Regions from separate parts of the Homo sapiens genome. Here region 2 is linked to region 1. The links come from fine-mapping of genetic effects on gene expression. Tissue or cell type: monocytes. Region 1 holds a variant in brackets; the other region holds the start of a gene. All regions are shown on one strand. Distances are from middle to middle.

Region 1 (15,409 bases):
TGTCTTAGTACAGATACAGAACATTTCAGAAGTTTCTATCGGACAGCACAGTTCTAATTACTGAGAGTCAGTGACCTAACATTATTGTAGTTCCTATAGGGACCCACTAAAGGCATATTCTGAAAAATGCAAACTAGGCTCATTTTTCAACTCATGTGCTATTAAGCTGGAGAGGGGACCTGCTGGTTGGTCATTTGTTTTGCTCTGAGCTAATTCCTAGTGTGGGTTTGGGGCCAATTAACTACACAGGACTCTGTGTCTGCTACTTATAATTTGTTGTCTAGGCTAAGTAAGTACAGATGCTCTTTGACTTATAATGGGGTTACATCCCAATAAGCCCATTGTAAATTGAGAATATTCTAGGTCAATACACCTAACCTACTGAGGTAGGAGGCCAGACACGACTCCAGAGGCAGGGCTTGGACACTGGACCAAATTGAGGACCAGCTAAAACACAGCCAGGGCAGAAGACGCTTTCCATAAGACACGCCCACCCGTGTGCCATGTCAGTTTACTGTTGCCATGACAACACTCAGGCTTTATTGCCCCTTTCCATGGCAATGACCCAATGACCCAAAAATTACTACCCTTTCCCTAGAAATTTCTGCATAAACTGACCTTTCATCTACATGTAATTAAAAGTAGTTATAAATATGAGTGCAAAACTGTCCTGAGCTGCTACTCTCTGCCTGTGGGGCAGCCCTGCTCTGCAGGAGCAGTCACGGAGCTGTAACATTGCCTCTTCAATAAAGCTGTTTTCTTCCACCTCCAGTTTGCCCTTGAATTCTTTCCTGGGCAAAGCCAAGAACCCTCATGGGCCAAACCCCACTCTGGAGCTTGCCTGCCCTGCATCCCTACCAAATATCATAGCTCAGCCTGACCTACCTTAAACATGCTCAGAACACTTACATTAGCCTACAATTGGGCAAAATTTTCTAACACAAAACCTATTTTATAATTAAGTGTTGAATATTTCATGTAATTTATTAAATACTGTACTGAAAGTGAACAACAGAATGGCTGTATGTATGAGCACTCAAAGTAAGGTTTCTACTCAATGCATATCATTTTTCTCCTATAGTAGAAAAATCATAAGTCGAACCATCATAAGTTAGGGACCATCTGTACTGACAATAGGTAAGGAAAATGAGAGCTGACAGGAGAATGGCTAAAAGATTTTGAGAAATAAAAATTTAGAAAGAATAGAAGCCCTATTATTTGCAACTGTGTTTGAGCATCAGCTATAAATGGGAATAGACTATGTAATTTAAAACAATAAGCTTTTTTAGACATTAACAAAAAGACAACATTGGGGCTCATCTCCCAAAAGCTGGTTTGGGCACTCGCTGATCTGGGAATCTGTTGAAAGCCATGGGGGCCCCACACAGGCGGGTGTCAGTGCCCTCACTTTCTCTTTTGACTAAAGGAAACGATCAAGAACACAGGTGCCCTGGCCATCCTTTTCCCAATAAACTGTGAACATCACCAGCTGGGACACCAGCAATTCTCCTTAGGATGGACCCACTGCAAAGACAGTCTCTTCTCTAGGGGAACTTATAGTCTAGTAGCTATGTTTCTTTTATGAGCCACACTACCTATAAGTTTTGGATGAACTTCTCCAGAGCCCTGGCTCAAACATGCCCATAGTTAATGTCACCCCTTATGGTCTGGTCCTGGTCTCAAGCACAACTGATGATCGGTCTTATAATTTGATCAGAAGTTTGAAACTTGAAGGTGGTTTTATTTATTCCTATGCTCCAATAGAAATCTTATGTGGACTCCCTTTAAAAAGACAAACTAGAATTTTACAAAATTAAAACTATTTGGGGGAAACTCAGATTTAATAGTATCCAGCCCTGCTGTTGTGAAAAATTATTAAATATTAAAAATAAATTATAGGTTCATTCCTGAATCTCCCCGATGGCTGATATCCCAGAGAAGATTTAGAGAGGCTGAAGATATCATCCAAAAAGCTGCAAAAATGAACAACATAGCTGTACCAGCAGTGATATTTGATTCTGTGGAGGTAAGCATTTGCAGATGTTTCCTCTTGAGATCAGCTATGCATTCTTGATTTTATGGAATTTAACTTAATTCAATATTTGTTAAGTGCCCACTATGTACCAGGCATTGCACTAGGCCTTAGGAACACAATCATGATTAAATTCTAAGATAAAATCCACCTTAAAGGGCTGTTTATAAGAATTAAATGCAATAATATATGTAAACTGCTTAGCAAATAGCAAGCGTTCATTAAATATTAGTTTGCTTTATTTTGCAAGTTTATCATCAACTTTCTATTGGCATTGCTCCAAACCACTGACACAGCTATGTACTGATGATTTTTAAATGTCCAGATTAAGTGGAAAAATATGTTTCAGGGCTAGTCCACCCTGGGTTCTCCACTGTACCCTGAATCTTACCACAGACTGCTGAGGAAGCTATGCATGTCTTTAGTCTCACTCTGTGTCATGTCTAGAACCTTAAGGCCTGAAAGCACAGGCTTGAGGATTCACCCTTGAAAGCTGGTGGCCACAAGGAAAAGCTGATATTCTGTGGAAGCAGCCACACCTCCTGACAGTTCGTGAGGATATGCAGTGTGCCATGCCCTGTGCTGGCTCCTAGAGGAAATAAGAAAAGACACAGCCCAAATTCTAAAGGAACATAGAATGTAACTAAGATTGGCAAGAGGATTAGATAAAAAGATAAAGAATGGCATAAGGGAGGAAATGGTAAGTATCCAAGTAGAGACACTGTGTGCCAGCAATACAGAGAAAGATAGCAGGGTGGCCCATGGCTGGAGGCAGGTCCAAGCCAGGGAGGACAGCAGGACTCACTTAAATGAGTGGAGAGGATGGGGCAGGGCATTCCTGTCTAGGAGATAGGTAGGAGTCTGCTCAGGACACCTAAAAAAGACTGTGGTGGCTTCAGTAACATTATACATGCCCTGCACCAAAGCATGTAGTACAGAAAGCAGAACTCTGTAGAGGACGGTGGGCATGCCACTGCTCACCCCCACGGCTTCCCCAGTCCCTGGCCTTCAGGACCTTTTCCAGAAGCAGATACTCTGGCTATGGCTAGAGGCTTAGACTGGCCATGAACTCAAGCTCTCAGAGGGCTGCCAGGACAAAACATCCCTTAATCCTTTGCCCTTCAAATCAAGAAGTCCATTTCAAGTCTCAGTCAATTTAAATGGATAAAACAACAACAACAACAACAACAACAACATTGGGAGTGTCTAACACTTCTGCCCTTCAGGGCTGTGCTGGGGTGTTTATCGGTATTTATCAGCTAGGTGGCCTGATTCCTATCTGTGAAACTTAGAGTCTAGTTGTAGGGATCTACCTATGTGGATGACAGCAATCATAAAATAGATATGAGATATATAGTTATGGACAAATAAGAATATAGTTCAGTGTTAAAACACATGGTTCTGGCAGTGCCTTTATATATATATATATACACACACACACACACACACACACACACACGCATATATAAATGTGTATATATATGTGTGTATGTGTATATATATATATATATATATATATATACACACACACACTTTAAAAAAATTTTGAGTCTCACTGTTTTGCTCAGGCTAGAGTGCAGTGGTACAATTACAGCTCAATGTAGCCTCGACCTCGACCTTCTGGGCTCAAGCAATCCTCCCACCTCAACCTCCCAAGCTGGGACTACAGGCACTTGCCACCAAACCCAGCTAACATTTTGTATTTTTTTTTGTAGAGACAGGGTTTCACTATGTTGCCCAGGCTGGTCTCAAACTCCTGGGCTCAAGCAATCCTCCTACCTCAGCCTCCCATAATGCTAGGATTACAGATGTGAGCCATCATTCTCAGCCTGACAGTGCCTTCTTTCTTCCTGCCATGATGCACATCTAGCCTGAACTGGACAAACCCATTAAGGGAAAGGGGGCTTGCGCTTTCCTGAGGCCTGGTCATCTCCCCTGCTCACCTCCCGTAGGATCCTCTTTAGGAGGATCTGCAGAGCCCTGTGCCAGCAAATGCACCCTATTTAGAATGATATTGAAGAGCCTACCAAATGCCAGGCACTGTGTTCTGCTCATTGCTCATGCTTTTTTTTTTTTTCAAAAAAAGAAACTAAGGCACAGCGAAGTTAAGTAACTTGCCCAGGATCACACAGATGTTAAACTGGGATTTGTGACCTAGTTCTCCCAGGCACCAAAGTACATGCTCTTAACAACTGTGATTTTTCACTTCATGTTACAGGCAGTAGCATTAACTTGGATAGGAAAAGATATAGAGTAGAGTATTGTCTTAGAAAGCAATCTCAAGCATCCTTGGCTTCAGAAGAAGCACCTTCAACCTGCTTCTGGTACCTGATCCAAAGACATTTTGGTGGCTCCACCCAGGCCAGGGACAACCACTGGATACAAGCATATTCTTGTTCTGAGGTTTCCAATCCTGGCTGCTCATCACAATCACCCAAGTGCTTTAAGAATACAGATTCTCAGGCCTCTGTTTAAAAGAGTCGAAGTAGGCAAGCCCAGGGAGGAACCTGGCAACCTGCATTTAAGAAGGGCCCCGTGGAACCACCAAGTATTAGCACAGGACTGGTCCACAGGTCCTGTCTGTGTGCACCACCCTGGAACCCTCCAAGAAGATGTCTGGTTCCCACTAGTTTATGCAGTGGCTTTGCTTTGTTATAATACCAGGGTTATTCTGCTGGGGGCATGTTCTGGGGCTCTACAATCCAAATAGTGCAAGAGAGAAAAGGCAATGTGGCTGTGAGCTGTGTAAGTGTCTGATCATTCCTAGAAAAAAGGACACTCACATTTGGAGAGGACCTGCTGTGAAGGCAGGCCTGGCACTCCCACTTCTTCATAATAAAAACTCCTCCATCAGTCTCTTACTGCGCATGCACTGTAGGGCCACAAAGTCACAAAGTCCTGGTACTTCATCCCTGAGAGATTCCCCACCTCAGAGCCTAATAACTTTTATGTTAGTTTCAATTCTAATCAGCTTGGTTACCTTGATTCATAACTCATAGCAAGTTAATATCAGCAAATTAAAAGCAAAAGAATAGGCCGGGCGCAGTGGCTCACACCTGTAATCCCAGCACTTTGGGAAGCTGAGGTGGATGGATCACCTGAAGTCAGGAGTTTGAGACCAGCCTGGCCAATATGGCGAAACCCCATCTCTACTAAAAATACAAAAATTAGCCAGGTGTGGTGGCAGGTGCCTGTAATCCCAGCTACTCAGGAGGCTGAGGCAGGGGAATTGCTTGAACCTGGGAGGCGGAGGTTGCAGTGAGCTGAGATCGCGCCACTGTACTCCAGCCTGGGCAACAAGAGTGAAACTCCCTCTCAAAAAACAAACAAGAAAATAAATATAAATAAAAGTAAAAGAGTATAAACCCATTGATAGCAGTAAGGATTTGTCACTGACCGCTGATGGCTAGCCTCTTTTCCTCAATGATACAGTAATAATAATAATAGTTTAAATTTACTGGACATTTACCATGGTTCAAGCACTGTGCTAAGCTATATATATATGATCTCATTTAATCTCTCAACTCCCAATTAATATACCCATTTTATATAGCAGTAAGCTGAAGTTCAGAGAGGATCGTTACTTGCCCAAGGCCCGCCAGTAAACTGAAGTCTGTTCTGATGCTAAATGACTACAACAAGAGAAGTGTAAAAAGCAAGGCTGGGTAATCCCAGCACTTTGGGAGGCCAAAGTGGGCAGACTGCTTGAGGCCAGGAGTTTGAGACCAACCTGGCCAACATGGTGAAACCCAGTCTCTACAAAAAATGCAAAAATTAGCCAGATGCGGTGGTGCTCGCCTGTAATCCCAGCTACTCAGGAGGCTGAGAGGCAGGAGAATCGCTTGAACCTGGGAGGTGGAGGTTGCAGTGAGCTGAGATCACACCACTGCACTCCAGCCTGGGCCACAGAGCTAGACTCCATCTAAAAAAAACAAACAAATAAACAGAGAAGTGTAAAAAGCAGACGTGGCCTCAAGGAAGGGACTACATGGCCCTACCCTTCAATAGGCAGTCCTGAGGATCACAGATCAGTGTGGTAAATGACATCCATTCTCTGACTGTCAGTCAGAGAAAGGCTATGTTAGCCAACAGGCTTTGTCTAACGAGACAGGGAAGGGGGTGTTATATATTTAAAAGGCTTCTGTGTAAAATGGACTACAAACATTTTAAAGTGTCAGAGTAAGTGTCATATATGTAGATGCCCTATTGCCTCCAATCACCAGACTTCTAAGCATAGTCAAGGTGAAGTGAGAGTTGCATGCATAAGTTTTCCCCATGCATCATAGCCAAAGATACTTCCTTACTACCTCTTAATCTCATGGTTATTTGCATTATTTTGGTTACAGGAGCTAAATCCCCTGAAGCAGCAGAAAGCTTTCATTCTGGACCTGTTCAGGACTCGGAATATTGCCATAATGACCATTATGTCTTTGCTGCTATGGTAAGTAATAAGTGACCTGGAAATGCAGATATCCAGCACATAAGTATGCAACTGATTTTCTTAACTCAGAGGAACATTATGACAACGACTGGGTTTTCCTGAGGAAAAATTAAGATTATAAAATTCTAAATTATTTTGAAATGCCTCTATTCAGTTCATGGGACTAGATATTGAAAAATGTCACTGGGCGCAATGGCTTACGCCTGTAATTCCAGCACTTTGGGAGGCCAAGGTGGGCAGATCACCTGAGGTCAGGAGTTCGAGACGAATCTAGCCAACATGGTGAAACCCCGTCTCTACTAAAAATACAAAAATTACCTGGGCATGGTGGCACATACCTGTAATCCCAGCTACTTGGGAGGCTGAGGCAGGAGAATCACTTGAACCCAGGAGGTGGAGGTTCCAGTGAGCCTTGATCGCACTACTGTACTCCAGCCTGGGCAGCAGAGCAAGACTCCATCTAAAAAAAAAAAAGTCACAGGGTACAGTATTTAAGTCTGCAGTACTGGGACCCAAAGGGAAAGCATTCCCTTCCCCCTCCTAAAGTTATGGGATTGAGATCATTGATGTCCCTGGGTAATGGTTCCCTCCCCACCAAAAATTATGAGATTAAGACTAATGATGTCCGTGTTGCCTGAGGCAGAGATGCTAATTCAGCTCCTGCTTCCTGAAGCTGACCTGGCAATTGAACACTGAGGCTAGAATAACCTAGATCCCCATTGCCTGGATTGGAGCCTTGATCAGCTTTTTACACGTGCCAATAGCAAACTAACAAGTGGCTTTCAGGCGCAGAAATACTGAATTGGCTTTATAGATTAGATTTAATAATTTATCTGCCAAGAAAAAAGGAAAAAAGAAAATTCCTACTCTATGATGGCA[G/GCACA]CACACACACACACACACACACACACACACACACACACGATGATCGTCAGAACTGGTAGATTTAGGCTGCAGCTAATCTAAGTTTATTTTTAAGGGCCATCCTACTTGGCAATTAGAAGAGATCAATGACAGAGCTTATGCGTCTGAATTAAGCAAGTGTGTCCTAGGTACATGGGCTTCTTAGTTCTTACATTTCAGCCTATATCCCTGATGCAAATGTTCTTGGGTAGTGGTGCTACTAAGCTAATAAAAAATTAGTCACTAGTTCTATCTAAACTACTCCTATTACTAAATGGGAAAATCACTAAGATCCCTTGAGCATACTTATTTGTTGTGTTTATGAATTAGTCCTTGTATTATCTAATTTGGGTCTAGTATGTGTAAAAAGATCCACTAGTGTTCCTGAAGTCATTTTTCAGATATCCTCTGCTTCTCAGTCATGTTAATAATAAGCAAATTTCTACACAGGGGTGTCTGCATAGTGCAGTTGTAACAAAAACTCAGGTTCAGTCACTCACAGCTTGCAGCGTCCAATTAACAAGAGCAAAGTCTGATGTAAGGAAAGTGACTTTTTATTCCAAAGCTAGCTTAGGGAGAAAGGTATCGGCTTCCTGCCTGAAGGGTACCACCGCTCCTCTTTTTGAAGCGGAAAGCAGGCACTTCTAAAAGGCAGGGGAGGACGCGAGCAGGTGAGGGATCAGAGGGCTAGCTTGCTGCCTTATCTACTGGGCAGTTGAGGTGGTGCCTTCATGGGCAGAAACAGGTTGTATAGGTGGCCAAAAACTCTAGCAGGCATACTTTGAGTTGGAAATTGACTGATATCGCTTGAGGAAATCTGGGCGGTGAGAGTTCCACTCTGGAGCTTCTAAGCACATAGTTAGATGAATTTGCCCTGCAGGGAGTGTCCAGTGAAGAGGAGGTTAAAAGGCTATAATTGCACTTCTAAAGAGCTAAGTAGAAAGTGCAGAAAAGGAGGAAAGAGAAAAGAAGAGAGAGAGAAAATAAACTATCTCTTAGAAAAATGGGGGTACTCAGTTACATAGTTATTTTTCCACAGAGAAGCTTCTTTTTTTTATTTATGTTTTTATTTTTTTGAGATAGAGTTTCGCTCTGTCACCCAGCCTGGAGTGCAATGGTGCGATCTCAGCTCACTGCAACCTTCGCCTCCTGGGTTCAAGCAATTCTCCTGTCTCAGCCTCCCAAGTAGCTGGGATTATAGGCACATGCCACCACCATGCCTGGCTAATTTTTGTCTTTTAAGTAGAGACGGGGTTTCACCATGTTGGCCAGGCTGGTCTCAAACTCCTGACCTCAGGTGATTTGCCTGCCTCGGTCTCCCAAAGTGCTGGGATTTCAGGCATGAGCCACCACGCATGGCCCACAGAGAAGCTTCTACATGGAAGTTAACTATAATGACAGAATATACAGACTGCAGTCTGTGATACTTTGAAGGATTAGGGGACATTCACTCTTTTCCCTAAAGAGAATCAGAATTTATTCTAAGTGAATCCCACAGTATGACCCTTGTATCTCTTTTTTGTTAAAGAATGAAATCTGGATTTTATGTTCACTGATGTGACTAATATTTTTTCTTCATATAATAGCTCTAAGAGATTGAGGAGGTACAAACTATTCAGGAAATAGGAAAACTTGAAATCAACTAGCTGAGAAAAGTTATTGTTGAATATTGGTATATCTAGACTAGCACTGTCCAATAGAACTTTCTGCAGTGACGGAAATGTTTCATATCTATGTCGTTCAATATAGTAGCCACTAGCTACACGTGGCTATTGAGCACTTGAAGTGTGGCTAGTGTAACTAAGGAACTGAATTTGTAATCTTATTTAATTTTAATTTATTCAAATTTAAGTAGCCAATGAGGGTAGTGGCTACTTATAAGACAGCAAGATATAGAGAATTTCTTGACCATCATAAAATTTTAGAGCGATTCACACCATCCCTTTGTCATTTTTACCTTCTTCTTTCAGGATGCTGACCTCAGTGGGTTACTTTGCTCTGTCTCTGGATGCTCCTAATTTACATGGAGATGCCTACCTGAACTGTTTCCTCTCTGCCTTGATTGAAATTCCAGCTTACATTACAGCCTGGCTGCTATTGCGAACCCTGCCCAGGCGTTATATCATAGCTGCAGTACTGTTCTGGGGAGGAGGTGTGCTTCTCTTCATTCAACTGGTACCTGTGGGTAAGAAGTTAACCAAGATGAACAGCTTACCAGAAAAGACCCACATATTGACTAGGCTGCTTCTGAGTCACTGCTCCATGTTTATTCAGCCTTTACATCATAAGCCATTCATAAGTCAATTAGACAGGTGATTGCTCACTACGTATGTTGTTTCCTGTGTTCAAAACAACTACCCCAAACAGAAGAGACAGTCTCAGAGAAGCAGAAAGCACCAAAGAGGAAGAGTAACTCTCCCAGTCATCCCCTTCACAGAAAGACTCACCTAACATCTCCCTTTAACTCATAGTCATGATTCCTAATTTCTGGCTACTCTCAAACATTTTCCCTGGGTGTATATTCAAGTATTACAGTGAGTAGGACATGTCGGTTCCAGGATACATTCAGTGGTTTTCTGGTCTGAATCTTTAAGTAGTTAAATAGCACACAAAAGGATATATGCTTCCCTTTTCCCCTTGTGTCTGACGTTCTCATAATATTAAAATGTCACTAAATTATTGATAGTAATAGAAATACATATTTCTTAATAATAAGAAAGAGGATAGAAAGGATTGGTCCTCCTCTTTGAAGATAAAACTTAACTATATTAACATGCTAATAGCTTACCCATGAAACTGTTTTAACAAACAAAAGACAAGTGGACAAAGGTCACTGAATGCATTAATGACCTAGAATAACAGTAGAACAAAGTACAAAGCCACCCCTCACATGAGCTCCATCTTTGTCCATGCCCAAATATTAGGACATTTGAAGAGAAAATGCTATTTTGGGAATATATTTATGTTAATAAAAGTACTCCCACTGAAGCAAAAAGGACAATAAAAATAACTGATATAAGAAAGTATCACTTCTAAAAGCACCATTGTTTATACCGGGTCTCTTTTCCAGATTATTACTTCTTATCCATTGGTCTGGTCATGCTGGGAAAATTTGGGATCACCTCTGCTTTCTCCATGCTGTATGTCTTCACTGCTGAGCTCTACCCAACCCTGGTCAGGAACATGGCGGTGGGGGTCACATCCACGGCCTCCAGAGTGGGCAGCATCATTGCCCCCTACTTTGTTTACCTCGGTGAGCTGCATCTTGTGCATTTGTTCTTCCTTTAAATTAGTTTTCAATGTAAAAGTAAGATTTTCATTGTGAAAATGTCAAATAGCATAGAATGTACTGGAAAAAAGTACAAGTTCACCTCTCCTCTCCCAGGAGGAGCTCTAGAAAGCCAATCACAAACTGGTGAGTAGCGCTACAGACATTTTGTTTTGCACAACATCATGTACACAGGTATGTATATAATTTTTTAAACACACAAGCAACTCAGGCGTGGTGGCTCATGCATGTAATCCCAGCACTTTGGGAGGCCAAGGTAGGTGGATCACCTGAGGCCAGGAGTTCAAGACCAGCCTGGCCAGCATGGTGAAACCCTGTCTCTACTAAAAATAAAAAAATTAGCCAGGTGTGCTGGCAGGTGCCTGTAATCCCGGCTACTCTGGAGGCTGAGGTAGGAGAATTGCTTGAACCCAGGAGGCAGAGGCTGCAGTGAGTCAAGATTGCACCACTGCACTCCAACCTGGGCAACAAGAGCAAAACTCTGTCTCAAAAATAAATAAAAATAATAAAAAATAAAAAGAATAAACACACAAATAACATTATATATGTTAAAACTTTTTAAACTTAACATTGTATCAGAATATCCTTCCAAATAGTTACATATTGCTCCTTTACCTTCTTTTTAAATAGGTACCTCCTTTTAAAAATGTATATAAGTACATTTTAAAATAAGTATATGTAAGTATAATCTACAGATAGATTCACAGAAGTAAAATTCCTGGAGCAAAGAGTGCCGTTAAAAAATTATATATATATGTGTGTGTGTACATAATGTTGTGCAAAACAAAATGTCTGTAGGGCTACTCACCAAACAGTTCATGTTGGTTTTCTAGGGATCCTCCTGGGAGAGGGGAGGTGAACTTGTACTTTTTTCCAGTACATTCCATGCCATTTGAAGTTTTCACAATGAAAATCTTACTTTTATACTGAAACACATAATTTATTTAACCAGGCTCCAATGAATGGAGGACATGTAGGTCATTTCCAGGTTTTTGCTATTACAAATAACATTACAACGAACATTCTCCTATGCTCCTACACCCTTTGTGAATTTACTTACGTATATTTGGATTTACAGGTAGATTCATAGAAGTAAAATTCCTGGAGCAAAGAGAGCCATTAAAAAATTTCATAGATATTCCCAAATTGAACTCTACATATTGTGCCAATTATAATCTAATTATTAATAGGTAAGAGTGGTTTTCAATAATCTCACCAACAATAAAGATTACCTTTTTTTTTTTTTTTTTTTTTTTCTGAGACAGGGTCTCACTCTGGAGTGTAGTGGTGCGATCCTAGATTCCCAGCTCACTGCAGCCTCAATCCCCCAGGCTCAAGAGATCCTCCCACCTCAGACTCCCAACTAGCTGGAACTACAGGCATGCACACCGTCAAGCCCAGCTAATTTTTTTTTTTTTCTGGTAGAGACGGGATTTTGCCAGTTTGCCCAGGCTGGTTTCGAACTCCTGGGCTCAAGTGATCCACCCGCCTCAACCTCCCAAAGTGCTGGGATTACAGGTTTGAGCCACAGCACCTGGCCTACCTAATTTTTTAATCATTGGTTATCTGTTATGTGAAAAATGGATATCATTGTTACTTTCATTCCTATTTATTAATTATGAATGAGGTTGAGCATGTTTTTGTGTATTTTTTGGCCATTTTATTTATTTTTCAGTGAACTGACTGCTCATGTTCTTTGCCCCTTTTTTTTTTTTTGGAGATGGAGTCTCACTCTGTCACCCAGGCTGGAGTACAGTGGCGCAATCTCAGCTCACTGCAACCTCCGCCGCCTGGGTTCAATCAATTCTCCTGCCTCAACCTCCTGAGTTGCTGGGACTACAGGCGCATGCCACCATGTCCGGCTAATTTTTTTTTTTTTTGTATTTTTAGTAGAGATGGGGTTTCATCATATTGGTCAGGCTGGTCTCAAACCCCTGACCTCAGGTGATCCACCTGCCTTGGCCTCCCAAAGTGCTGGGATAACAGACATGAGCCACTGTGCCTGGCCTTCTTTGCCCATTCTTTAATGGTGTATATCGGGCAAAATTCAGCCCTGATAATTCACATAGGTTCTTTTCTATTTTCCCTAAGTGCCAGCTGGTCTGAGAAATAAAGGGACAGAGTACAAAAGAGAGAAATTTTAAAGCTAGGTGTCCGGGGGAGACATCACATATTGGCAGGTTCCATGATGCCCCCTGAGCCATAAAACCAGCAAGTTTTTATTAGTGATTTCAAAAGGGGAGGGAGTGTACGAATAGGGTGTAGGTCACAGAGATCACGTGCTTCACAAGGTAATAGAATATCACAAGGCAAATGGAGGCAGGGTGAGATCACAGGACCACAGGACCGGGGCAAAATTAAAATTGCTAATGAAGTTTTGGGCACGCATTGTCATTGATAACATCTTATCAGGAAACAGGGTTTGAGAGCAGACAACCGGTCTGACCAAAATTTATTAGGTGGGAATTTCCTCATCCTAACAAGCCTGGGAGTGCTACGGGAGACTGGGGCTTATTTCATCCCTACAGCTACAACCGTAAAAGACAGCTGCCCCCAAAGTGGCCATTTTAGAGGCCTACCCTCAGGGACGAATTGTCTTTCTCAGGGATGTTCCTTGCTGAGAAAAAGAATTCAGCGATATTTCTCCCATTTACTTTTGAAAGAAGAGAAATATGGCTCTGTTCTGCCCGACTCACCAGCGGTCAGAGTTTAAGGTTATCTCTCTTGTTCCCTGAACATTGCTGTTATCCTGTTCTTTTTTCAAGGTGCCCAGATTTCGTATTGTTCAAACACACATGCTCTACAAACAATTTGTGCAGTTAACGCAATCATCACAGGGTCCTGAGGCGACATACATCCTCCTCAGCTTATGAAGATGACGGGATTAAGAGATTAAAGACAGGCATAGGAAATCACAAGGGTGTTGATTGGGGAAGTGATAAGTGTCCATGAAATCTTCACAATTTATGTTCAGAGATTGCAGTAAAGACAGGCGTAAGAAATTATAAAAGTATTAATTTGGGGAACTAATAAATGTCCATGAAATCTTCACAATCCACATTCTTCTGCCATGGCTTCAGCCAGTCCCTCCTTTCGGGGTCCCTAACTTCCTGCAACAGGTGTATTCATCTTTTTCTTTTTGACTTGTGCAAACTCTTTGCAATGGAAGAAATTAGCCCCTTGTATATATGTTGTAAATATTTTTCCTAGTTTACCATTTGTATTTTCACTTTATGATATCTTTGTAATGAAGACAATTTTAGTTTTTATATACTCAAAGGTGTCAATCTGAAATGAAACTACAGAGGTGTTTCAGCGGCATGTTCAATCTGATGTAGGATCTGACACCCCATGCCTGGTCCTCATTAAGGACTCTACTGGTGAGAAATGCAGACACACCTCATCAATTGGGCAATTGGTTACCTACTGGTACACACGTACACACACACACACACACACACACACACCTGAAAACATGTATGAATTCTCAGGAAAGGTATAATCCAAACCCTTACAGAGAAAGAGAAACATTTTCCTAACAAACATATTCTGCACAGTTGCCCTGTGCCACACCTGAGATAGCAGATTATACAGAGTGGTGTTATTTTTCCCTTTGTCCTTCCCTGTACTTTCAAACTATTTCAAACTATGCTCAGATGGTCCAGTGGTCAGACACTGGTACATAAGACAGGGAGTCCAAGAGTCTCCTACTCCACACAGCTACTCCTGTTAGTGACACAGAGGCCTCAGAGAAGCTGCAATAACAATATTTTCCTTATGTTTTGGGTCAAATGAAATCCATGGGTGTGCTGTTCCTCTGTAAGCTCTGTATGTATACAGGGGCAAAGCAAGATGAGGATCTGTTTTTCTCCTGTGTGAGTAAAGCTTCACAAAGAGATTACATATTAACCCAAGACATGTAAGTGCTCCAAAAAGAAGCCAAATCCAGGCACACAGTGCCTTTACAGAATGTGCCTGATACTTATAATTTACTGATTTAATCTGAAGTGAACATAATACTTAGTTGTTTTTTTTTTTTTTTTTTTTTTTTTTGAGTCTCATAGCCCTGTGGACCTAACTTTCCACTGCAGCCTACTAGTTTGGGCAAAAGCAGAGTCATGCCAGACCTATCATAGCCAAAACCTATCCCTGAAACATCCTGGTTAACCTCCTTCTCCTTGATGTCCTCCCATCCCCCATTTCCAATTACCTCCACCTTAAGAGGAGAACTCTGGTAGGCAAAGAACTCTACCAAAGGAACATCTGTCACACATGACTGAGTAGTAGCTTAGAGGATACCAGTTGACAGGAAAGAATGAAAAGCCTTATGATAATGCAAAAGGATTATAGACATGCACAATGTCATCTGCCAAAAAGAAACTGATATTTTGCTTACTTTTTTTTCTCTGAAAATGTTCAGATTTAAATCCATTCTCTTATACTGTTCACCAACTTCACAAAATGATGCTCAAGAGTGCCCAGAGAGTCCTCCTATCTGATTGATGTTCTTATGTCCCGGGCTTTACAGGTGCTTACAACAGAATGCTGCCCTACATCGTCATGGGTAGTCTGACTGTCCTGATTGGAATCCTCACCCTTTTTTTCCCTGAAAGTTTGGGAATGACTCTTCCAGAAACCTTAGAGCAGATGCAGAAAGTGAAATGGTAAGTAGGACTTTTAACAAAATGATACCAAAATGCCTTAGGGAGAATAAGCATGGAAGAATAGCTAGGAAGGTTCTGAAATAGAA
Region 2 (15,409 bases), 110 kb before region 1:
CCATCTGCAAATGGATCCTCTATCAGAAGGAAAGCATAAGTGAATGGCGCCATGTGTTCATGCCTATGCCAAATGTCTGCAGAGCTGACAGTCTTCCTGTCATAGTCTAGGTGTGGGGGTCCCAAGACACACAGGACAATTATCTTCCAACCTGGAACCTGCTGCAGGGTAGGGCGTATTGTGCTAAGGGGTCCATTAGGGAGTTAGAGCAGCAGAAGAGAGCAAGTCATCAAGAGAAAGTGAGTAAGCCTGGGCTTGCCCTGAGGCAGAGTCCAGGCCCTCCTGGTTCTAGCCACAGGTCTGCTCCAAGGCCTTACTATACTGTCTTCTCTATCCCAGGATTTCAGAAGGCTTCTCTCTTGCTTACACAAGCCCCTTATACCTAAGGGATTGGGTGTCTGTTTCTTGTTCCTCAAAAGGCTTGACTGGCTCAGGCTCAGCACCTTCTGTATGTATGTAGGGAGGGGACAGTGAAAACATAGAGCTGGGAGGATGTATCTGTGATCAGAAAGGGACCAGCTGACTGCTCCTCAGAGCTGGGGTGGTGGGAGAACAGGGCCCAGGCAGGTTCCAAACCAGACATGGTTGGAAGTGGGGAACCCAGCATCTCTACCCAGGTGTGTCTCCAGTTGCAGTTGCATACCTTTTTAGAGGCCAGATAAATTCCAGGGAGGAAGTCTGTCCATTCCTTTCAAATCATTCTGCTCCTATCATCTACGGTTCATACCTCACAACACTCAGGGAAAGCCAGGTTTCTTCATTACATGAATACCAGCTGTGATTTCTCTGGAATGTGCGATCTGGCTTAGACTGAGCCCATTCTTGAATCTCAGCCTGGAGGCAGAGCCTCAAAGAATCACAGATAGGGTTTGGGCAGAGCCTCAAAGAATCACAGATGGGGTTTGGGCAGAGCCTCAAAGAATCACAGGTAATTACAGATGACTTACCTACCAAGAGCCTGCAAAGTCTTGCTCTGGTGGGAGAAGGGGATAACTAACTCTGCTAGCCTGGAGAGCTGGGCACCTCCAAGCAGCAGCTCCCAGACTACCACATCAACACTGACATCTCTGGCAGGGGTACTCTGGAGCCCTACCCCATTTCTCCCAAGCCTGGGCCCCTTAACTCAAAAGGCTCTGTACAAAAAGTCCTCTAATTAGAGTCAGATTGGGAGGAGGCAGCATCCGAGAGGGACTGTGCCCCACAATGTGGGAAAGGCCAACCTCCAACCCATCTCATAACTATGCCCACAGCTTGCTTAAGACAGAGTAGGTGAAAGTATGTGTACCTGCTGAGTGCCCCTACAAAGTGTCCAGTGCTGCTAAAAGCCCTCCCAGAAACCCTCAGAATCCAACTGGAATAAGTCTGGAGGTGAACAATGTCAAACCCACTTTTATGAAAAACAAAGTGACATCTTGAGCAGAAAACCAATACTGAGTTTTATCTGTGCTGCATCCCCAGAGTTTAGAACAATGTCTGTCCCATACCAGGAACACAACAAAAAATACTTCACCACAGACTTGTTCAAATTAGGAAACTACAACAATAGAAGATTTTACATTTCTTCTATACAATGAGTTTTTATGGAGTATATTAAAAATGAATACTATATATCAACATGAAGAGATCTAAGCATACTGTTAAGTGAGAAAAGTGGGCCCCAATAATATGCACTCTATAATTCCATTTTTGTAAGGAAAAATTAATGTATATGTGTATATAGAGAGATGCAAGAAAAGAGTCATACATCTGGCTATATCTTGGTGAAATAATTTCTTTTTATTTTTATGCTTGTTTCTCTAATCTTTCTACAAGAAATTCTATAGCAATTTTTAAAATTATTTTATCATATGCTTAAAATGTAAAGAAAACAAAGCAGGCCCTTCTCAAACAGACTCCAAACGGGCCCTGCCAGCCCTAGTGTTTGGACCCCCACAGGAAAGTCCTGCAAAACCTGCCAACATCCCAGCAACAGTGATTCACCCATCAGGCGACTGGCACTGTTTCTAAACACAGGGCAATTCCAAGACATACAACCAGAGGTCCCACCAAACCTGAACTTTGGAAAAGACATTTACAATCTGGCCAAATGGCCATGAAAAGATGTTTCCAGCTGCAAACCAGCAGCGTCCTTAGCTTCTCTCCTTACCTCATCAGGCAGAATCTCTGCCAAGCTCCCAGCTGCAACCCAAATGCAACAGCCTGAGTTTTAACAATGTATTTAACAGCCTAGAGACAGAACATGAGCTTGCTGAGAACAAACTGGTCTTGCTTGGCACTGAACAAGAACCTGCCTGCCTTCTGTGAAGGGGGAAAACCTAACTGGACACGGCTCCCCGCTGCCTCCAACTCTAGGATAACAGGGCTGAAAGGACCTGTGTGTTCAGCCTAAGAGGATCCAGAGGCTCCAGGAGACCCTGCCACCAAAGCACATGGATGTCCATTCAGGCCTATAAGCTGCTGCCACGGCACCCTAGGCAAGTATGGGGGGTACCCTACTCTCCTTAGCCTCAGTCATCACCCTGATCTGAGCCACCCCTAACTTCCCCTACAGGCATCCTGGCCCCCACTACACTGGCCTCTCCACATGTCATCTGGCCTTCCTCCCACCTCTGCTCTACAAAGTAGCCAGCATGGTTTATCAAAGCCCTCCTTTGGCTCTCTACTGCCGTCAAGATAAAGTTCAAACTCTTTAGCCCAAAGGGTCCTTTTGAGTGTGTGACCAGGCCCTACTGCCCTCTCTAGCCTCATCTCACCATGCCAGGTTTCGTATCTTCAACAACTACTTTATGTGAAAAAATATTCTCCTTCACGAAGAACCTAATAAAGCCAAGATGTTTATCTGTATCTATCCACATACTTTCTCAGTCTGGTACATGAATAGTGGTTGACTTCCACTTCCCCACCTGGGTACCATCACCACCACAAAGTCTTGCTTCAGTAACTAGACAATGAAGTAGCAGAGAAGGCTGTTAAAACTGACATGCAAAAGCCAAGTTGGGTTTTCAGTCATAGTCTTGGCAGAGACTTGGCAGTCTGGATGAGACTAACCCACAAAAGGGAACTACACTTGAGGATAAAATCCATATACCACTATATTGGATGCATCTTACGTCCCACCTTGCAACCTCTTGGTCTCACCCATCTCCCAGGTCCCAGGGTATTTACTTTGCCTCAGCCCAGTGGAGGAGACTATCCAGGCCCACGCCAGAATCTCTGGCTCCTCTCACTATCTCCAGACTCTGTTGAAGTACCAGACTGGCCTCCCCAGTGGCTACCAAAGGGCCCTCATAGGGTAACCAAGTACATCTCTGTGCAGAGTAGCCAGCTTGCTAAAACACCACCTCCCATCCTCCTTTATACCTCACTTTTTTCTTTTGTTTTTTTGAGACAGTCTCGCTCTGTCGCCCAGGCTGGAGTGCAGTGGCACAATATTGGCTCAATGCAACCTCCACTTCCCAGGTTCAAGGGATTCTCCTGCCTCAGCCTCCTGAGTAGCTTGGACTACAGGTGTGTGCCACCATGCCCAGCTAATTTTTGTATTTTTAGTAGAGATGGGGTTTCACCATATTGGCCAGCTGGTCTTAAACTCCTGACCTCAGGCAATCCATCCATCTCGACCTCCCAAAGTGCTGGGATTATAGGCATGAGCCATCGCACAGGCCTGCACCTCACTTTTGTTTTCCCTCACCCTGGCTGCCCTGCAATTACACCTTCCAATAAAGCATTAAGTACTTAAGCTCTGTCTCAGGCTGTTTCCTGGGAACATAGTCTGAGATAAGCACTATTTGTTTCCAAAAATCTTTCATTTCTACTATCTAATTCTCACCCAAACCTTCTAAGCTAGATAACTACCTCCATTTCAGATATAAGATAGATACAAATGACAAACAGCTGAGGCTGAGAGAAGGTTTCCTACATATCTGACATCTGACAGCAAATCAATGACAGAACCAAGAGTCAAACCCAAAACACACTCTGCTAGATATTGCAGCTATCCAGTCCTACTCAATAATCTGTTACCTTAAAGTGCAATGGACTCCCAAACAGGGAAGCCACACTTTGCCCAGGAAGAACATGCCTGCCCAGGTTAAGGACTTTATCATGGGTTACACCAAAGGTTCATAAAGCAGGTCCATGACACGCCTGGCTGGATCTCACCAGAGGGAGGAACGCAACATGGACCCAGAAAACAGCAACATGGTCCCTTAAGTTCAGATGGGCAGTCACTCCTACCTTAGACATGACAGCACTCACAAATAACCAGCCAGTCCAGCTCAGGGCAAGGCAGTACAGTCAAATGGACAGGCACACCTGCCCTAGGGTCAGACATACTAAGAGTTAAACCCCAATTCTATACCACTTCCCGGCTTTGTGACCTTGGACAAGTTATAGGATTCCTCAGTTTCCCCATGTATATAATAGAGACAATACTAGGACCTATATCTCATAGGGCTGTTGGAGGACTGAATGTGATGACAGATGTTGGCAGGTAGCCCTGCACTAGGCATAATTTATGTCAATCATTAGTACCAAGGGCACCAGAGAAACATCAGTGGACCTGAGGCAGCCAGCTGCCCAGCCCAAGTCAGCTGATTCCTGGGTGAGAAAGAAGGTCCAGACTAGGGAACAGTGAAGATGCAAACAAGGCAGAAATTGGGCGATCTCCATGTTCCAGGAGCACCACAAGAAATGAAACATTTAATTCAGGAGAGACTGGAATCAGGTATAATGTAGTACATTGATCATCAGGGGATAACCCTGGAACTGGTCAATCACTGGCTCTAAAGCTCATCAAGCAATGTTCTCTAGCAAAAGGCGGGGGATTGGACCAATACTCTAGGAACTCATGTACTTATATGCCTCTGACCTGCTCATTCCAGGCTCCTACAAGTACCCAGGCCTGAGGATCTCCACTACACCCTGGCCCTCAGAGTGCCAGGTACAAAACAGGCCACACTCTAAGCAAGCACTTCCTGAAAGGTCCAGAGCAGATGCTGGCCTGTTACCAGGCTCAGATAGATTCCATCTGAGCTGGAGAGCACTCTACCCAAACACTTAATCCTCTGCCCTGCAATGACACCAGCTGAACAAGAACTCTCTTCTAGGGCTCCAGTAAATCATCCAGACTTTTCATTCTCCTCTGCTCTGAGGAAAAAAAAAAAAAAAAAAAACTGTCTTTCTATCTCTCATTCCATGTCCGTAACACAAAGCCCACAGACCACAGGACCTTCCAGCCCTCTTTGCTCTAGGACAGGCTGATGTCTTACCCTAAGGAACTTCAAATGTCCAAATTGCTAGATGTGAGCAACTTTCCCGAAGTTTAACTCTCACTCCAGCACTCTGCTGGGCTTGCATGTACTTGCATCACAGCTTTTCCTGCCAACTTCCATCTGCATAATAGTAAACTCTTGACAGACCCCAGGAGCCAGGGACACACCTCCTAGCCCTCTGCACACTATCAGCCAGCGTGGCCACACATCAGCCAAGGCCTTGCTTCCAGTCTCAGACCCTCCCAAGGATGTGGGAGGGCAGAGTGAAAAAGGGAGGCCTTCTTAGGAAATGAGGAGACCCTAGATTCCCTCAACCGACTCATTCCTCAGAGCTGCACCCACGTAGTCTCTTCCTTTGATGAGCACTCACAGCCGGGCTCCTCCCCTGGCACATGGCCAGCTGCCAATATGAAGCAGCAATCTCAGAGTACGAGCTACCCACAGGCAAGAATAGTGCCTCGGCCACCTCCTCTCTCTCGTCCCTCATTCTAGCCCCAGGCACGCTCCAGTCAGAAGCCAAACAGGCAGAAGGCACTCAAGGGATGAACTGAGATCAGCTGGGGCCAGTCTAAACCGGTGACTAAGTAAGCACTGTCTAGAGTACCCCAATGCAGAGCTTTCGACAGGATACAAGGGCCTATCACATGCCACAGACAATGCCTCAGCTAAGCTGTCACCAAGTCTGCCTGCTGAGCTCTCAGAGAACTAGGGTGATCCAGTATGACAGCATCTTTGGGATGAGGCCCCCAGCCAACTCACTCCATCCTTGCTACGTGGCTTCATTGGCTGGGCCACACAGTGGACACTCGGCTGTGTAAGAACAAGGAGGCCCTAAAAGAAAAGAATTCAAAGACCAAACATTCTGTGAGTGGGGAGAAGCAACCAGAGAGACTGGGCGCTGAGGCCCAGAACCACAGTGAGAGGCTGCACCTTGGACACCTCAGGGGCAGTTTAAGTACAAGCCAAAGGAAATCCTAGTTCATTTAACAGAGACTAAATTATGGAACCTAATGTCAGATGAGACACAGGCTGAGAACAAGCAGCAGACCCCAAAAACATCCTATAAATTCTTAGGTGGACAATGGATCTCCACAAAGTCTGGGACATTTAAGAATGCCCCAAGCTACAACGTAACGGACTCCAGCCCTTGCTCCTAGGACAGGATTTCCTACAAGAGGGCTGGGGCTGTGAGGCCCCAGGTAGTCTATTATCAAGAAGCACAAATCTCGGGTGTCACTCTACAGCAAAAGACAACAGTCACAGTCTTGGGAGGGATCCCAATGCTCTCCTGCACCATCTCTCTTTTTTATTTTTTTTTTAAGATGGAGTCTCGCTCTGTCTCCCAGGCTGGAGTGCAGTGGCACGATCTTGGCTCACTGCAACCTCTGCCTCCCAGGTTCAAGCGATTCTCCTGCCTTAGCCTCCCGAGTAGCTGGGACTACAGGCGCGCGCCACCATGCCCGGATAGTTTTTTGTATTCTCCTGCACCATCTTAAAGTCAAATAGAATACAAAGGCCAGGGACCCACCTGGGCTGTCCAGCAATACCTGAGGCAGGAAGTGCCCTGATCCAGGCTCCTGCTGCGAAGGTCAACTGGGCATCTTACACATGCAGGGCACAGTACCAGGCACGTTATCTCACTCCAGGGTCTTGTAGACAGCGTCCGTGGACAGCTATCCCCTACAGTGTTCCTTCCCCATCACCTTGCTTCCACTACAAGGCCATAAGGAATGGCATTGGCCAAGGTCTCTGCTCCCACTCACATAGGCTGTTCCTCTGTCCACGATGCCCTTTTGCCAGCCTTCCTCTGACCACTCCAGCTCATGGGTCACCTCCTCCGGGAAGTCCTCTGGCCGGAGGCAGTCAGTGCTCTACCAAGTACCCACTGCCCGCATTCCCTTCCAGCACAGCGCTCACCACACTGCTCTGGGCCAGGACCTTCCCGCTCTTCCAATCCGCCTGTCCCACTGGGTTAGCAACTGCTTGCGGTTTCTGGCACACAGAAGGGTCCCGTTTGTTGAATTAGTTAACGAATTATCACGGGTCTCCGCAGCTGCCAAGGAAAAACAACGCTGGTTCCACAAGGATGTCTGGGGGAGAAAAGACTTTCTGATCCAATGGCCCATCTAATGGGCTCCAAGCTGGACCCTGCCCGGACAAGACCTAGGACTCCCAGCCCTTGGGAGGGTGCAGAACGGGCTTAGCCAATATGAAGAGGCCCCTCAGGGCCAGGCGGACGCCGCGCCCCCGCTCCCAACAGCCGGCAGCCCGGGGTCAGGCCGCCACTTCCCGGGAGCCTGACAGGGAAGAGCGGCCAAGTTCCCAGCCCCGCCCGACAGCCGAGGGAACTGCACGAAGGGCGCCGCTGACCTCACCACCCTGAGCTCGGGAAGGCTTGCGGGCGGCGGCACAAGAACCCAGACGGGTGCAGAAACAGGGCGGAGGGTGCAGGGTGGCGGCCCGGACTGCGCTGCTGGCGGCTAGCGGCGCGACCCCCGGCCCCGGATCCGGCCCCGGCCCCTAACTCTCAGCCCCGCGCGGGCAGAACGCACCGCCTGGCGACCCCAGCCCGCGCCCCAGCGCTAAGGTTGATCTGGCGGCTGAGCGGGCGGGGCGCTCACCTGGACACTCGCAGCTCCCGGCGTTTCCAGAACCTCCCGCGGCGTCGCCCGGTCAGCTCGGCGCCTCCTCCCTTGGCGACTCCGCCTCGGGCCGCTGCCGGGGCTCCGCCCACTTGAGCCGCCGCCACGTCCCCACCTCACGCTCCACACGCCTGCCTGCGTCCTGGTCCCCAGCTCCGGTGGCTCCGCCGGGGTTCGCCGTCCTCTGCGACCCCTGGGAACGCCCAGGCTACCCGGCCTCGCGGGAGCCGGAGCCGGAGCCGGAGCCGGAGCTGGCCGCCCGCGCCCTTCATGCCGCCCGCAGCCCACCGCACGTACTCCGCGCCCGCCTGGCTTTGGCGCCCCCACCTGCGGGCCTTGGCCCGCCCTCCTGCCCAGCCCCTGGGCGTCTGGAGAGGTCGCCACGACCCGATCCCCTCGCCGGGGCTGTAGGGAGAGCGTCCCTGGAGGCTGACGGATTTCCCTGCCTGCGCTCATGCCCATTGCCTGGGGGGCCCTGCCGGGTACACGGGCCCCTTCTTCCCAGCACCACCACAAGGAGGCTGTTACGGGAGGCTGGGGTCACCCCGGCTAGGAACTGGGTATCAGGAGAGGAGGCAGAACAGTGGAGAAGACCCTGAGGAAGACTAGGGACCTGGGGCCCACCCCCTGGAGACCGAGATTGGGAGGCCCATTCCCAGGGCCGAGCTCTCAGTGGGTTTCAGAGAGTCCCGGGCTCTGGTCCAGGCAGTCCTGGTGGCATGTGCAGGGGTGATGGATTGATGAGAAGGGGGCCCATCAAAGGCTGGGTGGGGGCGGAGGCGGGGGGGCGGTAACAACCTGGGGCACACTGGGTTGCCCAAACCCTTCTTTATGCCATGGGCCAAAAAGAGTGGACACCTGGTTCAGCCAATCCAGTCTGGAAGGGAATAAGGACAGAGATGCAGCAAACCTCAGCCTGAGCGGGAGGAGGCCCTGGCGGCCAGGCAGGTTCCCACGCCTGCTCTGTGAACCTTCCTCTCATGAATGAGGGGAAGCACGGTCTGAGAATCTCATCAGGGAGCAAGCCCAGAGCGGGAGATGCCCAGCCTCCGCCCAGGCCCAGTGTGGATATTCCCTACGGCACACGGGCCAGGCAGGCGGCCCAGACCTGGGGAAAGCAGGAGCACGCACACGGAAATACACATAAAACATGGGTGAGCCATTGTTCCTGCCTGCGTCAGCCACCGGCTCGAGCCCGGCTAAAACTACACAAACCCTCCTGCATCTGCTACATCCACAGAAGCTTCCTTCCATCTCCTCCCCCTTCTCAGGAGTTTGCCCCATGGAACATCCCTTTTCTCTCCTGAAGGCTCAACTACCCGCTCTCAACTGGATCTTTCCCATTGGCCTGTAAATGTGTTCAAGCCTCTACTATGGGAACAAAACCCTCATTCGACCCCACTGAGTGTCTCTGTTCTCAACCGCAGCGGAATTTCTTGAAAGAGCTGTCTCCCCATCCTCACATCTCTCCCACTCTTCAGGCCCTAAAGGAGCTGTCTCTCCCACTCTTCAGGCCCTGCAGTCAGCCTTCTAGCTCCCTAACAGCACCAAACCAGGTCTCAATAAACTGTAGCCTCCAATCTCCAATTTCAACGGCTGTTCTTCAGACCTCATCTGCCAGGGCCCTGAGCAGTGTCTGACACCCAGCGATGACCACAGCCCCTCTGGAACACTGATTTCCCTTGGTTTCCCCTCATCCTTTCTGGCCACCTCTGCTCAAGCTTCTTCAGCATCCTCTCCCTATTAGTAAAGGTTGGGGGTTCCTCAAAACTCAGGTCTAGGCTTTCCACTTCACGCTTCTCTTTACACGCAGGTGACACAAATTTCTCTCTTTACCCTTATCCTTACTGCTGAACCCCAGATTCATGTAACTCACTGTTCAGTGTACATCCCCACTTGAGTGTCCACAGGCACCTCAATGGCAACATGTCCAACACAGAGTTATTGTTCTCCCCCTACATCTTCCCCCTCCACACATCCTGTCTTCACTGCTGTACTGAAGGAGATACTTCCCATCAGTTACCTAACCAGAAGCCTGGGAGTCATACTTGGCAGCTCCCTCTCCCTCATCCCCAGACCCTATTTACCTATATCCCAAGTCTGTTCAATTTTACCCCTAAATCTCCCTCTAATCCACCCACTTCTCTCCATCTTTTTCACATGAGTGATGGCAACACTTTCCTGACTGGCTGCTCCTCCATTTTTGTTCCCTCTCATCTCTCCTTCACTACAACCATGATGATCTCAAAATGCAGATCTGAGCCCATTACTTGCAGCTGGGAAATTGCCCTGATCTTGAGAAACATCAAAAAGTGGTTTATAAGGTTCCACATGGTTTGGCCTCTGCTCACTTCTGTAACCACATCGAACTTCCTCCAGTCTCTCTAACTGGCCATTCCCCCTCCCCACCCCAGACCTTTATACATGCTGTTCCTTCTGTCTAGAAAAAATTTTTCCCTCCCTGATTAAAACCTTCAGAATCCTTCAGATTCCCTCAGAGGCAGAGAGATTTTCCTTACTTCCCTGAGTAGGTCAAAACCTCCCATAACAGACCAGGCACGGTGGCTCATGCCTGTAATCCCAGCACTTTGGAAGGCTGAGGCGGACGGATCACCTGAGGTCAGGAGTTCGAGACCAGCATGGCCGACATGGTGAAACCCCGTCTCTACAACAATACAAAAATTAGCTGGGCATGGCCAGGCACGGTGGCTCACGCCTGTAATCCCAGCATTTTGGGAGGCCGAGGCGGGTGGATCACGAGTTCAGGAGATCAAGACCATCCTGGCTAACATGATGAAACCCCGTCTCTACTAAAAATACAAAAAATTAGCCGGGTGTGATGGCGCATGCCTGTAGTCCCAGCTATTCAGGAGGCTGAGGCAGGAGAATCGCATGAACCCGGGAGGCAGAGCTTGCAGTGAGCCACGCATGATGGCGGTGTCTGTAATCCCAGCTACTAGGGAGGCTGAGGTGGGAGAATCACTTGAACCCAGGAGGCAGAGGTTGCCGTAAGCCAAGATCGTGCCATTGCACTCCAGCCTGGGTGACAAGAGCAAGACTGTCTCAAAAAAAAAAAAAAAAAAACCACACACACAAAACCTCCCATAACAGCTTCTCATGTCCCCGTGTGCTTCGTAACACTTGCCACCGTTGATAGAATTGAATGATCGCTTGGGTAACGTCTTCCCCGACTGGCCTGGGAGGTCTGGGAGTACATAAACCATGCATGCATTTGTCCATTGCCATTTTCCCACCACCGAACTGGGCTCAATATTTGCTAACTCCTTGAATGGACGGATATCTCCTCAATACCTTGCTCCACACTGTAAGATTTAGTCTCCAAAGGCATGAGTAAGACCTCCGCAGGGTCTTGGAGTCCTGGCAGCTCAGGACCACAGCATTGGTCAGATATCCTCCTAAAAAATCTGCAGCCTTGAGAAGGGGCAGGACTTCTGAGGATCATGTCTCCTTGGTCTTCCTGCCTTGCAGGAAGTGGCCATTCATTTGTTTTTATATTCCTTTTCCTCTACCTGCCTCCACCCAGAAGATACCATTTCTGACCTCTGCCTTTGTAGCCTCACTTTCACCACTCAGCCCTTAACATAAGGCCCTCAGACTCCATCTGGGCTCCTGATCTATTCATTTCCTGGGGTTGCCACAACAAATTACCACGAACTAGGTGCCTTAAGTCAACAGAATTTTATTCTCTCACAGTTCTGGAGGCCAGAAGTCCAAAATCAAAATGTTACCGGGGTGTGCTCCCTCTGAAGGCTCTAGGGGCGAACCCCTCCTTGCCTCTTCCAGCTCCTGGTGGCTTAGGAGTTCCTTGGCTTGTGGCTGTATCACACGAATCTCTGCCCCATCTTCACCTGCACTTCTCCTCGGTGTCTGCATCTTCTGCCCTTCTGTTTCTTATAAAAATAACTGTCATTGGCTGTAGCGTCTACCCAGGTAATCCAGGGCAGATTGGGAGGTCTACCCAGGTAATCCAGGGAGGTTTGGCACTGAAGCCTCCCTGAATGCTGATGACTCTTGCAGGCCCTGGAACCACTGCAACAGCTCCCTTAATAACCTGTAACTTAATAATATCTGTAAGGTCCATTTTTCCAAATAAGGTCACATTCACAGGATCCAGGTAGTAGGACATGAATGCAATTTGGTGGGGTTGGGGGGCACCATTTAATCCACTACATTTGACATTCCTCCATGCCCTCAAAGGCTTCTGGACCCATGTAAATCTATCACTCAGTTTTGAATCTCCAGCCTGGGTCCACTCCAGACCCACATCGTCACAGCCTTTTCTTTATGACCACTTGATAAGTGAACTCATTGTCTCATGTAGGGTCCCCCAGGTTCCCTCACTTTTTTCTCTCTCCTGACAAATACCAAATGCCTTGACCACTCTATGACCCAGACAGCCGAAGGTTTTTTCCTGTAGGCTTGAGCCCAAGCTGGGGCCTTAAACATTCCCAGGCACTGATAAAGGTGTTTAGATGGTCGCCCGAAACACTGAAAGAAACTAGCCCCGACCCTGAGCCAAATTCCTTAAAATCTCATATAAATTCCATACCCAGACCCCCCTTGCAGCAGGCATACCTAGATAGAACATCCCTGTCTCGCTGTCTGCCTACAGGATGTACTGCAGCCCCCTCAGAGACCGAGAAATTTCCCTAATAAATGCTTTGGACTGATCACCCTGGCATTTAGTGCTACTTTCTTTGGAATCCCAACCATTTCAGGATGGTTTGGGGTAGTCCCGTATGGGGACCCCCCTGCCACTGCTTTTGGGGCATCTCCAGCTGCAGGTTCAGCCAGGATGAAACATCTCCCCCATACCACAGCCCACACCACCCAAACTGCTTCTGCCCCAGCATTTCCTACATCTCAGCAAATATCACCATCTCCCAGTCACTTCCCTTTTCTTTCCCACTGCATGCCCACCCTGGAGATCTTACCTGGTGGATCTCTCTCAGTTCACTTACTTCTTCCCAACCCTGCTGTCGCAGACCAAATTCAGGACACCACCATCTCTCACTTGGACAATCCATCTTAGCCCACTTTTCTACTCCGCTCCCTCTATCCTTACTCCATTACACAGGGCAGAGTGACATTGTAACCATGTGATTCCCATCATGTTATTTCCGTATAGAACCTCTCAAAGGTATTCCATGGACCCAAGGGTAGACACAAATCTTGCCAATGCTGCCAATCCCTTTTATCCAGCCCTGATGGTCTCTCTTCTTATGCACAGCCTCAAACTTGATGCTGCAGCCACTCCAGGCACTTTTCAGTTCCCTGGCCTTTGAATGTGTTATTCCTCCTGCCTAGAACATTCTCTTCCCAAAAGGTGGTTTCTTTCAAAAGGCTTTCTGGGTCTAGCCTGAGCCAGATCCTGCCATAGGCCCCAAAGCTCCTCATGGATGAGTTTCACACATGCTACCTGACCTCATTCAATGTCTACTTCATTTACCATTTGGCCCTCCTGGGGACTGCCTCTAACCTGTTCATCACTGTGTCTCCAGCTCTAGCATAGGGTCTGGCGCCCAGAGCCTAGAGAGGAATTGGTGAACAAAAATACATGAATGAATGAGTGGACATTCCCACTATTGTGGCCTCTAGCAGACCTCATTGAGTACACCCAGTGTGTGTCACTTAATGAATCCACAACCATCTTTAACAGCCACACATCACAGCATGTTATAGAGATTCACATCCCTTCTCCCCAAATCCATTGTATGAACAAGGCCATACCTCCCTTCTGGAACAGCTCTATGGTGTTCATTTATGTGTTCACTCAACAAACATTTGCTGATCACCAGTTGAGGTCAAGGCGGGGGATTCAGGGACCACACATATCAAAGGGGCTCTGTCTAGTATAAAAACTAGTAGATAAGCAGAGGCCCGCCCAGCAACTTTGTCTAGGGAGGGAAAAGCCCAAGCCTTTCCAGCTGGGAAAGGCTACTAGTAGGAGGTACTGCCTACCTAGACCCAGTCTTAGAGACCCTTCCTAGGCTCAAGATCAGGCATGGCCTATGACCTTTCACCCCAGCATGGCCAGGGCATTGCCAAATGAGGCTCTACCTCCATGCTGTCCCTAGGCAATATCCCTGGCCAATGGCTCCTTGAAGCAGTCTGGACTTGTCTGCCTGCCATCCCCACCCCGAAGGAAGAACCTGGTGTTTCCCCAGAAGGGATAGTAAAAACATCTGTGCTGGGCGGACAGGAAATTGGATGAATAGGAGGGTGGATGTGGCATAGCCCTTAACTCTAAACAGGGGCCTACTCAGCCTGCCCTGCCCCAGCCTCCTCCACTCCTACTCACCTGTGATCCCTGTTTTGGGGAAGGGGAGTGGGGCAAGCTCCACTGCTTGGCACTGAAGTCTCCCTGAATGCTGATGACTCTTGCAGGCCCTGGAACCACTGCAGCAGCTGGAGGTGTGGTCAGGGTTTACGACTATCTGGCCTTCCATGGAATTTCCCAGAGCAAGGCCCTCAGGTTCAACCAATGCCACACAGAGGGCATTGTATATGTGGATACACATCTGTATTCTTCGGTACATTCCGCATGCAGCTGTCCACTGGAGCTCAACCCACCCTAGGTTTCTCCCCTTAGAGACTGAGGAAAGACCGAGTGTGTCTCAGTTGGCTGGCGCTTTGACTCAAGGCCAAACACAGACAGCAAGACTTGTGGCTTGAGTGGGGCTACCTAGTAGTAGCCCTACTGCTTCTGAAATAGGGCCTATCCAGTAGTCTGGTCTTATAGCCTGGTGGTTGACCCTGGAAAAGGGAAAGATAATCTGGCAGAATCCCCAGAAGCCTGTGGGGACAGGCTGGGCAGGACCAAGTGTGTCCCTAGAGAGTGCCCCCCTAATCCCTGAACCCATCTGGTGGGTGCAAAAACCAAAGCAGGCTACAACTCTCCTACCATTTGCCTCCCCCATGGACCCCTGCAACCCAAGACAAGCAGAGTCAGCAATCAGGCTGAGTTGTCATTACAGGCATGCCAAGACCTTCAGGAACTGCAATTACACAGCAAGTCCAGGGCAGGCCCCCCATGGTGTAAAGAGTGAGTTTACACTACAACTTTCCTCCTCACTTCACCTCCATCCTGGGCGAGAGGCTCTGGACTAGTGCAAATGTCCAGAGGGCAGGAGTTAGCTAGGCATGGTGCTTGAAATCTGATATTTTGATGTATATACTGTAAAGCACACTTTTAGAATTATTATTACAGTCCAGCAGCCACTCGTCCTTCCTTCCCCAGTCCTGACCCTATATTGGGGCTGGGTGGGGATTAGGGATAGGTGATAAGGTGAGGGTTAAGGATAGCTATTGGGCATCTGATGTAGCTACTATCTAAAAGGCTGAAAGTTGAGTGTTTTTAATGTTTTTTTCAGGCCTTGTTAAAATGTCAGGAAGCCAGTAGAGATTAGTCCTATAAAAAGTTTAATAAAGCTAATAAATGTTAAGTGAGATCATAGAGGTGAAGCCTTACTTGAA

Which allele goes with the higher level. Alleles are on the strand shown, and positions count from the first base shown. SD is a standard deviation of normalised expression in the study named.
For the expression in monocytes of the gene that starts at base 7,955 in region 2, allele G in region 1 goes with a lower level than allele GCACA (large effect, 0.81 SD a copy in Kim-Hellmuth 2017).

What was found. PIP is the estimated chance that this variant, and not a neighbour inherited with it, causes the effect.
Region 2: it holds the start of P4HA2, and the variant in region 1 is the best candidate, but not a certain one, in a credible set for the expression of P4HA2 in monocytes (Kim-Hellmuth 2017, PIP 0.64).

The regions. Positions count from the first base shown.
Region 1 is chr5:132,325,378-132,340,786 of GRCh38, forward strand. It overlaps SLC22A4 (solute carrier family 22 member 4), which reads left to right. Exons shown (of 10, transcript NM_003059.3): 5 at 1,900-2,026; 6 at 6,379-6,473; 7 at 9,341-9,555; 8 at 10,441-10,623; 9 at 15,188-15,323. MIR3936HG (MIR3936 host gene) reads right to left here. Exons shown (of 8, transcript NR_110997.1): 6 at 9,408-9,549; 7 at 6,812-6,933. Among named protein-coding and RNA genes, the nearest start is that of MIR3936, 33 kb to the right of the region's middle. The variant G/GCACA (reference allele first, on the strand shown) is at 7,353.
Region 2 is chr5:132,219,899-132,235,307 of GRCh38, forward strand. It overlaps P4HA2 (prolyl 4-hydroxylase subunit alpha 2), which reads right to left and starts at 7,955. Exons shown (of 15, transcript NM_001017974.2): 1 at 7,892-7,955. RefSeq lists silencers at 7,672-7,931, 8,072-8,301.